Regions from separate parts of the Homo sapiens genome. Here region 2 is linked to region 1. Evidence: fine-mapped expression QTL. A gene starts in region 1. The other region holds a variant in brackets. All regions are shown on one strand. Distances are from middle to middle. Region 1 holds the start of SAMD3 (sterile alpha motif domain containing 3). Region 2 overlaps SAMD3 (sterile alpha motif domain containing 3).

Region 1 (5,386 bases):
GAAACTCACCAGATCCAGACAATGAGATACCAGCCTCTCATTCATTGTAATTGCTCCCTTACTCCTTCCACATTCTTGTTTTCCCATACATATTTAACATTTCTTCCCCGCTATATAAACCTCTAATTTTAGTTGATCAGGAAGATGGATTTGAGACTGAGCTCCCATTTCCTGGACTGCAGCACCTGATTAAAGCCTTCTTCCTTGGCAATACTTGTTGTCTCAGTCGTTGGCTTTCTGTGCAGCAAATAGCAGGACCTAAACTGAACCCCTGGTGTTTCAGTAACATTATTTTTTACTTGTTAATCATTCACATAACCTTTTCCTCTCCTCCTTACTTTCTTCCCCATGCTCACTCACTCTCTTGCTCAGTACTGCTCTCTGTCTCTGTCTGTCTCTCTTTATCTCTCTCTAACACACACACATACACACAAATTCAGACACACAGACTCATATTTAATGATGGACTATAGCCTACCAATTGGTATGAATTTTACCTTTTGGGCCAACTCTAAAAAGAGTGCTTCGGGCTGGGCGTGGTGACTCATGCCTGTAATCTCAGCACTTTAGGAGGCCGAGGCAGGCGGTTCATGAGGTCAGGAGATCGAGATCATCCTGGCTAACACAGTGAAACCCCATCTCTACTAAAAATACAAAAACTTAGCTGGGCGTGGTGGCACGTGCCTGTAGTCCCAGATACTCAGGAGGCTGAGGCAGGAGAATCGCTTAAACCCAGGAGGTGGAAGTTGCAGTGAGCTGAGATCGTGCCATTACACTCCAGCCTGGGTGACAAAGGGAGACTCCATCTCAAAAATAATAATAATAATAATAATAATAATAATAATAATAATAAATAAATAGAGTGCTTTTGCATAAACAAAAGTTTGAACATTCTGGCCCGTCCTCACATGAACCTAGGGCTGGCAGAAGCATGAGCATTTGTCACTCATGAGAAACACAGGGTCCTATGCCTTTTTGTGTCTCCACACCTCCCATCTGTGCTTTGCTTTTGATACGGGAGGCGGGCAGGGAAGTGCTGGGTAGAGAAGAATGGGGTCCCTGGCTAGGGCTCCACCCTCAGGCCTGTACCCATGGACGTAAGTGAGAACAGGCACTCCTGTTTTCACGCCCAAATGTTGCATTTTCCAAAAGCACTCTGGCCCGCCACACCCCCATCCTCTGCCTATAAAAACCCTGAGACCCTAGCGGGCACAGACACAAGCGGCTGGACATCAAGAGGAACACACTGGCAGAATACACTGACAGACTGGCAGGACATCAACAGCAGTATGATGTGGACCACGTAGAATTTGCCTGGGGGTGGTTGGAGGAGAGTCAGGCCACTGAGCGGCCTGACTCCAGGGGAAGACCGCCTTCCCATTCCATTCCCCTTGTGGATCCCATCCATCTGCTGAGAGCTACTTCCACCAGTCAATAAAACTGTGCACCCATTCTCCAAGCCTACATGTGATTCAATTTTTCTGGTACATTAAGGCAAGAACCTTGGGATACAGAAAGCCCTCTGTCCTTGCGATAAGGCAGAGGATCTAATTGAGCTGATTAACACAAGCCACCTGCGGATGGCTAAGCTGAAAGACTGCACTGTAACACACTCCCACTGGGGCTTCTGGAGCTGTAAACACTCAACCCTAGGTGCTGCCATGGGGTAGGAGCCCATGCTCCCCATGACCTGCCCGTCTGCATGCTCCCTCTAGGGGTTTGAGCTGCAGGGTACTGAAGAAGCGAGTCACACCCATCGCACGCCCTGCAAGGGTGTTTCCAAGTTTCACTTTGAGTCACACTGCATTAAGAAGATCCACTACCTTGCATCCCCTTCTTCCTGAAGAGGCCTACAAAGTCAGACCAGCACTTAGTGTTAACAGATCAAGAGAGCCCAGCTTGACTCTACCAGCTGAGCAATATAGGTGGATACAGAAGTCACCTTTCATGTGTTCTAACAAATGAGTAACTCCAAAAAAATAGTTGTAATATTTTAATAATGTAAGTTCTTGCCACTACTCAGAGCTATAAAATGTTCAGCTATCACCTGCACTATCACGTACACACTGAGCTATGTAACGAGAATTACATTCAGCCAATGTCTGCTAAATAAAGGTTTGTGCATTTTAGTTCAATGATGTAGCTACAAAGAAAATGAAGCCTCAAGACACTAGAACCTTCTGAGATGCAAAGCTTTGAGTCCTTGACTTTGAATTCAATGTCTAAATTCTAATACATTATTATTATATCTGCCTTAAGATTGATATAGGAAATTTTTTTTCTAGTTAGTGTTATTTCTTCTAGGAGCTTAAAAAAGGTAACTAAGGAAGAATTAAATGTTCCAAAGATATATTATGGTAAACATGTATGTACATACATGGGTATTTGTCACACTTGTCAGAATCTTCTTCCTTTGAGAGGTGCAAACGTTAGCTGTCTGAGATCCACCCTGTTTCAAACTTACCTTATGCTTCCTGTGTACTGTGAGGCTCCCAGTCTTGCTGTCTTTCAATGGGGCAGCCACTGCTCAGTTGCTGCCATTCAGAAATATGAACCCAGTATCACCAGAACTTTTGATTTTTCAAGAGAAACCAAGATTCCAGATTTGTAGGTGATATCTTCCATTTTTCAGATAAAACAAAGGAACCAGAACCACATCCACTGATCGGATTTGCCTGGGGAGGAGGGGTGCTCTCTCCTTTGATCTTCTCTTCTGGAAGAGATGGACCAAAAGCCTCTCCAGCAATAATCCGTAAATATCACTTTTTACCTTTTCTCTATAAAACTCTAACTTTTCTGATATTAAGATAAAATTCTTTCATTGAGAAAAATTTAAGAGTGGCAGATTACAAACAAAAAACATTAATTCCTCCAAACAGAGATTGCCACTTCTGCCTTCTAGTATATGCTTTCCCAGCCTTTGTGTAACCAAGCATTTCATTCTACTTTTATTTTATTCTTTCCACAAATCTGAATCATACTATTTTAAATTTATTTGCAGTTAACCATATCCATGACTGTTTCTCTCTACATAGTTATTTGTCTAGATACAATTTTTGATTACTACATAGTATTTTATTTTAAATATAAATTACTGTAATTCATTGGCCAATTCCTATTGCTGGAAATTTTATCTGTCCAATTTATTTGCTATTCGGACCATTGCTATGGCACACATCTTTGTGTTCATTTCTGTTAATGTCTTTAGGCACATTCTTAGAAATGCTATTTTGGGGTCAGAATGTAGAAATATTTTTAATGTTTTTGGCTTGCATTAGTACCCTTTAAAGTTGGATAGATTGGATTCAAATCACTTTTACCTTTACAAGCAAAGGAACCTTAGGCGAGTTACCCTGTAAACTCCAGGACTTTCAATTATAAAATGGGAATAATATGACAGGGCAAGTTGTGCCACTTTATACTCCCCTTAGCAGTGTGTAAGAGAACAACTGACCTTGCATTCTTGCTAATTTTCACCTTTTCCAATGGAATAAATGAAGATGGTATTTAATTATTTTTATTACAAATAATGTAGATTTTTCAGATACTGGTTTAAAATTTTGTTCAAGAGTTACCTATTCCTATTTTTTTCTATTGGTGTATTAATTTTTTAGTTGGTTTTATGGATTATAGAGTTGACCCTTGAACAACATGTGTTGGAACCTCTCAGGTCCACTTACATGCAGATTTTCTTCTGCCTCTGCCACCCCTGAGACAGCAAGACCAACTCTCCTCTTCCTCCTCCTCCTCCTCAGCCTACTCACTGCAAGACGACGAGTATGAAGATCTTTATGATGATCCACTTCCATGTAATAAATAGTAAATGTTTTCTCTTCCTTGTTATTTGCTTAATAACATTTTCTTTCCTCTAACTCATTTTATTGTAACAGTACTGTATATAATATATATAACATACAAAATATGTGTTAATTGTCTATGTTATCAGTTAAGATTCTGATCAATAGTAGGCTATTAGTAGTTAAGTTTGGGGGTAGTCAAAAGTTACTTGCAAATTTTCAACTGCATAGCAGAGTCAGCGTCCCAACCCCTGTGTCGTTCAAGGGTCCACTGTGATATATATGTGTACACATGCGTTTTTCCTTTTTAGTCAAATCTATCAATATTTTATTTTTATTATGTAATCTTAGATTATTTTAAACTCTTTTTAATTTTTCATATTTACATATTTAACTTATCTGAGGAATTTATTGTGTAGGTGTTATGAGGCATTATCCCAACAAAATATATTGACTAATCCCTTCTTTGTCACCAATTTTAAAGATCTTTTCACTGGCTGGGCGTGGTGGCTCATGCCTGTAATCCCAGCACTTTGGGAGGCCAAGGTGGGCAGATCACAAGGTCAGGAGATCGAGACCATCCTGGCTAACACAGTGAAACCCCGTCTCTACTAAAAACACAAAAAAATTAGCTGGGCGTGGTGGTGGGCACCCGTAGTCCCAGCTACTCGGGAGGTTGAGGCAGGAGAATGGCATGAACCCGGGAGGCGGAGCTTGCAGTGAGCCGAGATCGTGCCACTGCACTCCAGCCTGGGCAACAGAGCGAGACTGTCAAAAAAAAAAAAAGATATTTTCAGTACTTCCATATGAATGTTTCTGTTTCTAAGTTTCTATTCTGTTTCAATATCTGTTCTCTTTTCCTCCAGTACCATGCTGTTAATAGCATAACATTTTTTAACATCTGGAAGTGCAAGTCCTTTTGTCAAGCATTTTTCGTTCTTTTTACCTATTTATTCTTCCACATGAAAACTAGCCTCATAGTAAGTAAAACATATAACCACGTATGTATATTAATTGGAATTTATAAATTAATTCTGAGGGAAATGACATCTTCAAACTATCAAGACTTCTCAGTCACACATCCAGCTTTTCATAAAATTCAATAGCACAGTTCACAGTTACCATCTCTGGCAGGACTGTAATCTGTGTTGCTGAACCATAAGCTTTGGCTGTCAACGAGGCAGAAGCAGGGATAAACCATAAGTTTGACTCAAAGGCCAAAACACTAGGGTGTTTGTGACTCAAAAGTTCCAAAGTTCTGGGACTCTGGCTCATTGCTATTTTTGTTCATTAATTTAACTAAACCTCCCAGATAAGTGGCTCTTTAGTTTCTTTGAAAATGTAAAAATTGGCCAGGCTAGTGGCTCACACCTGTAATCCCAGCACTCTGGGGGGCCGAGGCAGGTGGATCACAAGCTCAGCAGTTCGAGACCAACCTGGCCAACATGGTGAAACCCCATTTCCACTAAATATACAAAAATTAGCCTGGCATGGTGGCACGCGTCTGTAATCCCAGCTACTCAGGAGGCTGAGGCAAAAGAATGGCTTGAATCCGGGAGGTGGAGGTTGCAATGAGCCGAGATAGTGCC
Region 2 (5,386 bases), 71 kb after region 1:
ACCATGAAAAAGGAAAAATTAAAAAAAAAAAAAAAGAATTTCAGTAGCATATTCAGATAATAGGCACCAGCTGCCTTCAGAACTAAAGAGTTCTCTGTCATTGGACATATTGTGGAGGGTGGCGGATCATCACTTAGGGGTATTTTGACAGTGTGAATCATTATTCCCTTTCATGCTTTTATGTAATCAAGGTAGTTTATTAAGGAACTGTTATTATGCATCCTTAGTAAAAATACGTTTCCTTTATGATCCCAAATAATTTCATAAGTGTCCTTAAATATATATGAAATTTAGGGCCAGGCATGGTGGCTCATGCCTGTAATCCCAGCACTTTGGGAGGCTGAGGTGGGTGGATTGCTTGAGCCCAGGAGTTCAAGACCCGCCTCAGCAACCTGGTAAAACCCCATCTCTACTAAAAGTACAAAAATTACCCCAGCTTAGTGGTGCGTGCCTGTAGTCCCAACTATTCTGGGAGGCTAAGGCACGAGGATCACCTAAACCTGGGGAGGTCAAGGCTGCAGTGAGCCATGACTGAGCCACTGTACTGCAGCTTGGTGACACAGTGAGACCCTGTCTCAAATTTTAAAAAATAAATAAATAAATAAATATATATATATATATATGAAATTTAATGGGTAAATCAATCAAATACCCTTCCATTTAGTTCACTTAGAGTGGCCATTCAAGGTTCTTTCACAATTTTAGTGTAATTTTTGGTGGTGGTATATAATGAAAGATCATCAAAGGTTTTACCCGAGAACATATTTCATGGAGAAATTCTATGTATTCAATTAACCAAATTAAACATGAAACATCTACATATTTTTCTTCTGAGCAAAGGGAAATAAGAATTGCCTGTATTATTTTAATAGAAACATAAGTAGCAAATATCTGAATGCTTCTCTGTAACAGCATGTTCTCAGTGCTTTCCACGGATTAATCTACCTAATCCTCTCAGCAACCATACTGTGGCTTTCGCTTGTTTCCCCTTAATCTTCAGGTTGTAAGGAACTGTAATAGCCAGTCATCTCTGGCTGTTAGAAAAGTATGCCAAATGGACACATCTGCAAAATACAGTTTTAAAGCAAAAGCCTGTCAAACTTACGGTCTATACACTCCTTACATGTAGGGAGCACGTGTTAATATTAACAGTTCCCAAAGTGCCTAGCAGAGCACCACGTGTGACACAGCAATGTAATCTTGATTTTGTGAATGCTGAGTGAATTAGTGGAGGTTGGTAAGGCTGTTGTGATCACTAATGTCGTAGCCTTAGGGGTCTTCATTGGAGTGTGGCCTACAAAGGCTTAGTGATGAATATAAATGGACTATGTTAAGCAGCTTTTCAAAGAACCATTGGTGACAGTAAGGTGGAGGTCTGTCATAGCTTATGTGAGGAGCAGAGAGATTTCAGACCTGATGCTGTCCCCTGTGCTTTTGTCCAGGCCTCCTGCTGTGGCATAGGTGTATCTTCCGCACCATTCCTCAAGTATTTCACCCTTTATATCCAAAATATGGAGTATGGTTTTTGTAATGACTGTACTTATTGAATAGAGTTGCCTGTTGATTGTTTTATTTATTTATTTATTTATTTATTGAGACAGAGTCTTACTTTGTCGCCCAGGCTGGAGTGCAGTGGCACAATCTTGGCTCACTGCAGCCTCTGCCTCCCAGGTTCAAGTGATTTTCCTGCCTCAGCCTCCCAAGTAGCTGGGACTACGGATGCACGCCACCACGCCTGGCTAATTTTTATATTTTTAGTAGAGATGGGGTTTCACCATGTTGGTCAGGCTGGTCTTGAACTCCTGAGCTCAGGTGATCCACCTGCCTCAGCCTCCCAAAGTGCTGGGATTACAGCTGTGAGCCACCGTGCCCGACCTGATTGTTTTAGACAAAAGAACGAATCATTTTCGGTTTTTCCAGGAAGTACCTCCCTGACTCAGCCCTAGGCAGCTGGGATTTCCAATTTATAAAACTCTTGTGTGCCTCCTAAAATAAAAGCAAGTTTGACCTCGCAAATACCTAGTTAACAAATGATCCCGTAAGAGGACAGTTGTCCCTGCACCAAACCACCCCCACCGCCTGTTGCTCCTGCCATTGTGAAAACACTGAGTGCTTAGGGAGCTGGTGGAGACAGGGTGGCAGAACAGCAGCAGCCGGGGTGGGCGGTGGTCCTGGCTGTTAACACTGACCCCCCATCACCTCCATGCTCATTAACCTCCTTCCTCAAAAAACTTTCTTTCAACAAGGCATTTAAAAATTCAGAATGTAACCATTTACTTTATTAGATTATCTAAAATATTATCAACTAGGAATGTGTTACTGGGATCTACTGGATGTTGCACAAGACAAGTAGGAGGGAGTTGAGAAGGAAAATACCAAACACAAACTGAAACCCTTCCCCAAATTTTCCAAAAAATCCTTTCAGATGCCATAGTTTCTGCCTTCCTGAGAAACAATTTCAATCATCATCTCTTTAAGTGAAGTACGTGAGAATCGCCAGCTAATAAAGTCTCAAAAAATTAAAAAAATCGGCCAGGCATGGTGGCTCATGCCTGTAATCCCAGCACTTTGGGAGGCCGAGGCGGGCAGATCACCTGAGGTCAGGAGTTCGAGACAAGGCTGACCAACGTGGAGAAACACTGTCTCTACTAAAAATACAAAATTAGCCGGGCGTGGTGGCACATGCCTGTAATCCCAGCTACTAAGGAGGCTGAGGCAGGAGAATCGCTTGAACCTGGGAGACGGAGGGTGCGGTGAGCCGAGATTGCGCCACTGCACTCCAG[T/C]CTGGGCAACAAGAGTGAAACTCCGTGTTAAAAATAAATAAATAAATAAATTTAAAAAATAAAGAATTTGAGTTTGGTTTTGGCCCAAATGGAGTAACTGGTACTGGTCTAGTCTTCCCACTGTTAACATGGATAAAGCTGGAAAAAAAAAATATGTATGAGGCAACTGCACTCAGGCATTAAGGTACAGGCAATGCAGGACCCTGATCCTTGGTAACGGAAAGACATAAGATGTGCCTCAGTTTTGTGCATGGGTTACTTTCTAGCTCACTGTACAGAATGGTGGGAGGCAAGCAGCATGCGGAGGTCTCATGGAGCTGCACAGGAAGAGATTAAAGTTGAGGAATGATGAAGCAGCTGGCCTTTGTAGGACAGGCACTGGAGGAAAGTGGGCTGGGCCGAAGTCTACACACGGATCCCCTGGGGATCCTTGGCTGAGAGCCGAGACTTCACACAGTGTTGCTAATAAGAATTCAGGCTAGGTGTGGTGGCTCACGCCTGTAATCCCAACACTTTGGGAGGCTGAGGCAGGCAGATCACTTGAGGTCGGGAGTTCGAGACCAGCCTGGCCAACATGGTGAAACCCTGTCTCTACTAAAAATACAAAAATTAGCCGGGTGTGGTGGCACACACCTGTAATCCCAGCTACTCAGGAGGCTGAGGCAGGAGAATGGCTTGAACCTGGAAGGCAGAGGCTATAGTGAGCCGAGATTGTGCCACTGGACTCCAGCCTGGGCGATGGAGTGAGATTCTGTCTCAAAAAAAAAAAAAAAAGAATTCTGGCCCAGTGTGTAGAGACCCTGCAGAACACCTCAGCATTCATCTGAGACTCCAGAAAACAATGCCTCATGAGTGAGAACCATGCCTAAGTTTGAGCCAGGACCTTAGCTAGGACTAAGGACAAACAACAAAACAGAATTGCCGAAAGAAATGATAAAATCAAGTCTGACAGGACCAGAAGATCCACCATAATTTATCTGCCTATCAGAACAAAATTTAACACCCTTTAAAGGAACATAATTTAATCCAGACTCCCCACTAGTGGATCACTAGAGGTTACAGTGAGCGGCGCCATTCCCATTTCCAACTCTTGGTTCCTGGACCCATGAATTCTGGCTATGGAAGAAACTGCACTGTATGCTGGATGCTGATTCAGAGCTTATACAGCCTGGGAGAACCTTGTCCCAGCCCCACAAGGTATTGCCACCTAGCTGGTGCTGTAACTGAGTCTTCAACAGGCCACTCCACCAGTCTGGCAAGCCAGCTGCTTCAGGACAGGACGGTGGGGAACAGGATAAGACCAGTAAATTCCATGTATCATCACCATAGGGAATCTCAGCAGAGAAATGAAATACACGCACACACACACGCGCGCACACACACACACATGAACCAAATTGAAATTCAGAGCTGAAAAGAACAGTTATCTGAAATGAAAACATCACCATGTGCGTAGGCTTAAAAGCATATTGGAAAATGAAAAGAAAGGAGCTGTGAATCTGCAGATAGATTAATAGAAATTATCCAGTCTGAGTAACAGAAAGAAAAAGGATTAAGATGATTAATTTGTAGGACATAATCTGGGGTTGTGAAAAGGGGGGCTTTCTTTTTGTTCCAACTTTTAGGTTCAGCAGGGGATACGTCGTGCAGGTTTGTTATATAAGTAGATTGCATGTCGTGGGGGTTTGGTGTACAGGTTATTTCATCACCCAGGTAGCGGGCATAATACCCGATAGGTAGTTTTTCGATCCTCACCTTCCACCCACCCTCTAATCTCAAGTGGACTCCGGGGTCTATTGTTCCCTTCTTTGTGTCCATGTGTACTCAGTGGTTAGCTCCCACTTATAAGAAAGAACATGCAGTATCTGGTTTTCTAGTCCTGCATTAATTTGCTTAGAACAATGGCCTCCAGCTACACCTATGTTGCTGCAAAGGACATGATTTCATTCTTTTTTATGGCTATGTAGTATTCCATGGTGTACATGTACATTTTCTTTATCCAGTCTGCTATTGATGGGCATCTAGGTGGATTCCATGTTATTGCTATTGTGAATAGTGCTGCAATGAATATATGTGTGCATGCGTCTTTCTTTATATTCCTTTGGGTATATACCCAGTAATGGGATTGTTGGGTCAAATGGTAGCTCTGTTTTAAGTTCTTTGAGAAATCTCCAAACGGCTTTCCACAGTGGCTGAACTAATTTACATTCCCACTAGCAGTGTATAAGTGTTGGAGGCTTTCCTGTGGCTGACCATTCACAGCTGGGAGCTTGGCTACACAGATGTTAGTGCTCATAAGTAAATACACTGAGATATAATGGGAGCCAGGAATCTCACTGTTGAAGAGAGTTAGAAGCTTGGGAAGGGGAAGGTTAGGAAAAGCCCTGTGGTATTGGTTTGGAATTGAAAGTATCAATGTGAATTCATGGTTTTAGTCTTTATGTATGGCTATTTAATATTTACATATATAGTTATTGGTGTTTCTGGATCAACGGGTGCCTTTGTTTATGTAAATTCAAACATTTCCTAGATTTCTTCTATGAGAAAGTCTAAAGCAATAACATCTCCGTAGCAAGTTGCACACCAGGGCTGAAATCTTGGTT

The links. PIP is the estimated chance that this variant, and not a neighbour inherited with it, causes the effect. A credible set is the group of variants that fine-mapping cannot tell apart.
Region 2: its variant is the best candidate, but not a certain one, in a credible set for the expression of SAMD3 in whole blood (INTERVAL, PIP 0.59).

What each region holds. Positions count from the first base shown.
Region 1 is chr6:130,220,060-130,225,445 of GRCh38, reverse strand. SAMD3 (sterile alpha motif domain containing 3) reads left to right here and starts at 2,495. Exons shown (of 12, transcript NM_001017373.4): 1 at 2,495-2,752. RefSeq lists an enhancer at 1,779-1,888.
Region 2 is chr6:130,148,885-130,154,270 of GRCh38, reverse strand. The region is part of intron 9 of SAMD3 (sterile alpha motif domain containing 3); the gene reads left to right. Among named protein-coding and RNA genes, the nearest start is that of SAMD3, 71 kb to the left of the region's middle. RefSeq lists an enhancer at 1,006-1,626. The variant T/C (reference allele first, on the strand shown) is at 2,784.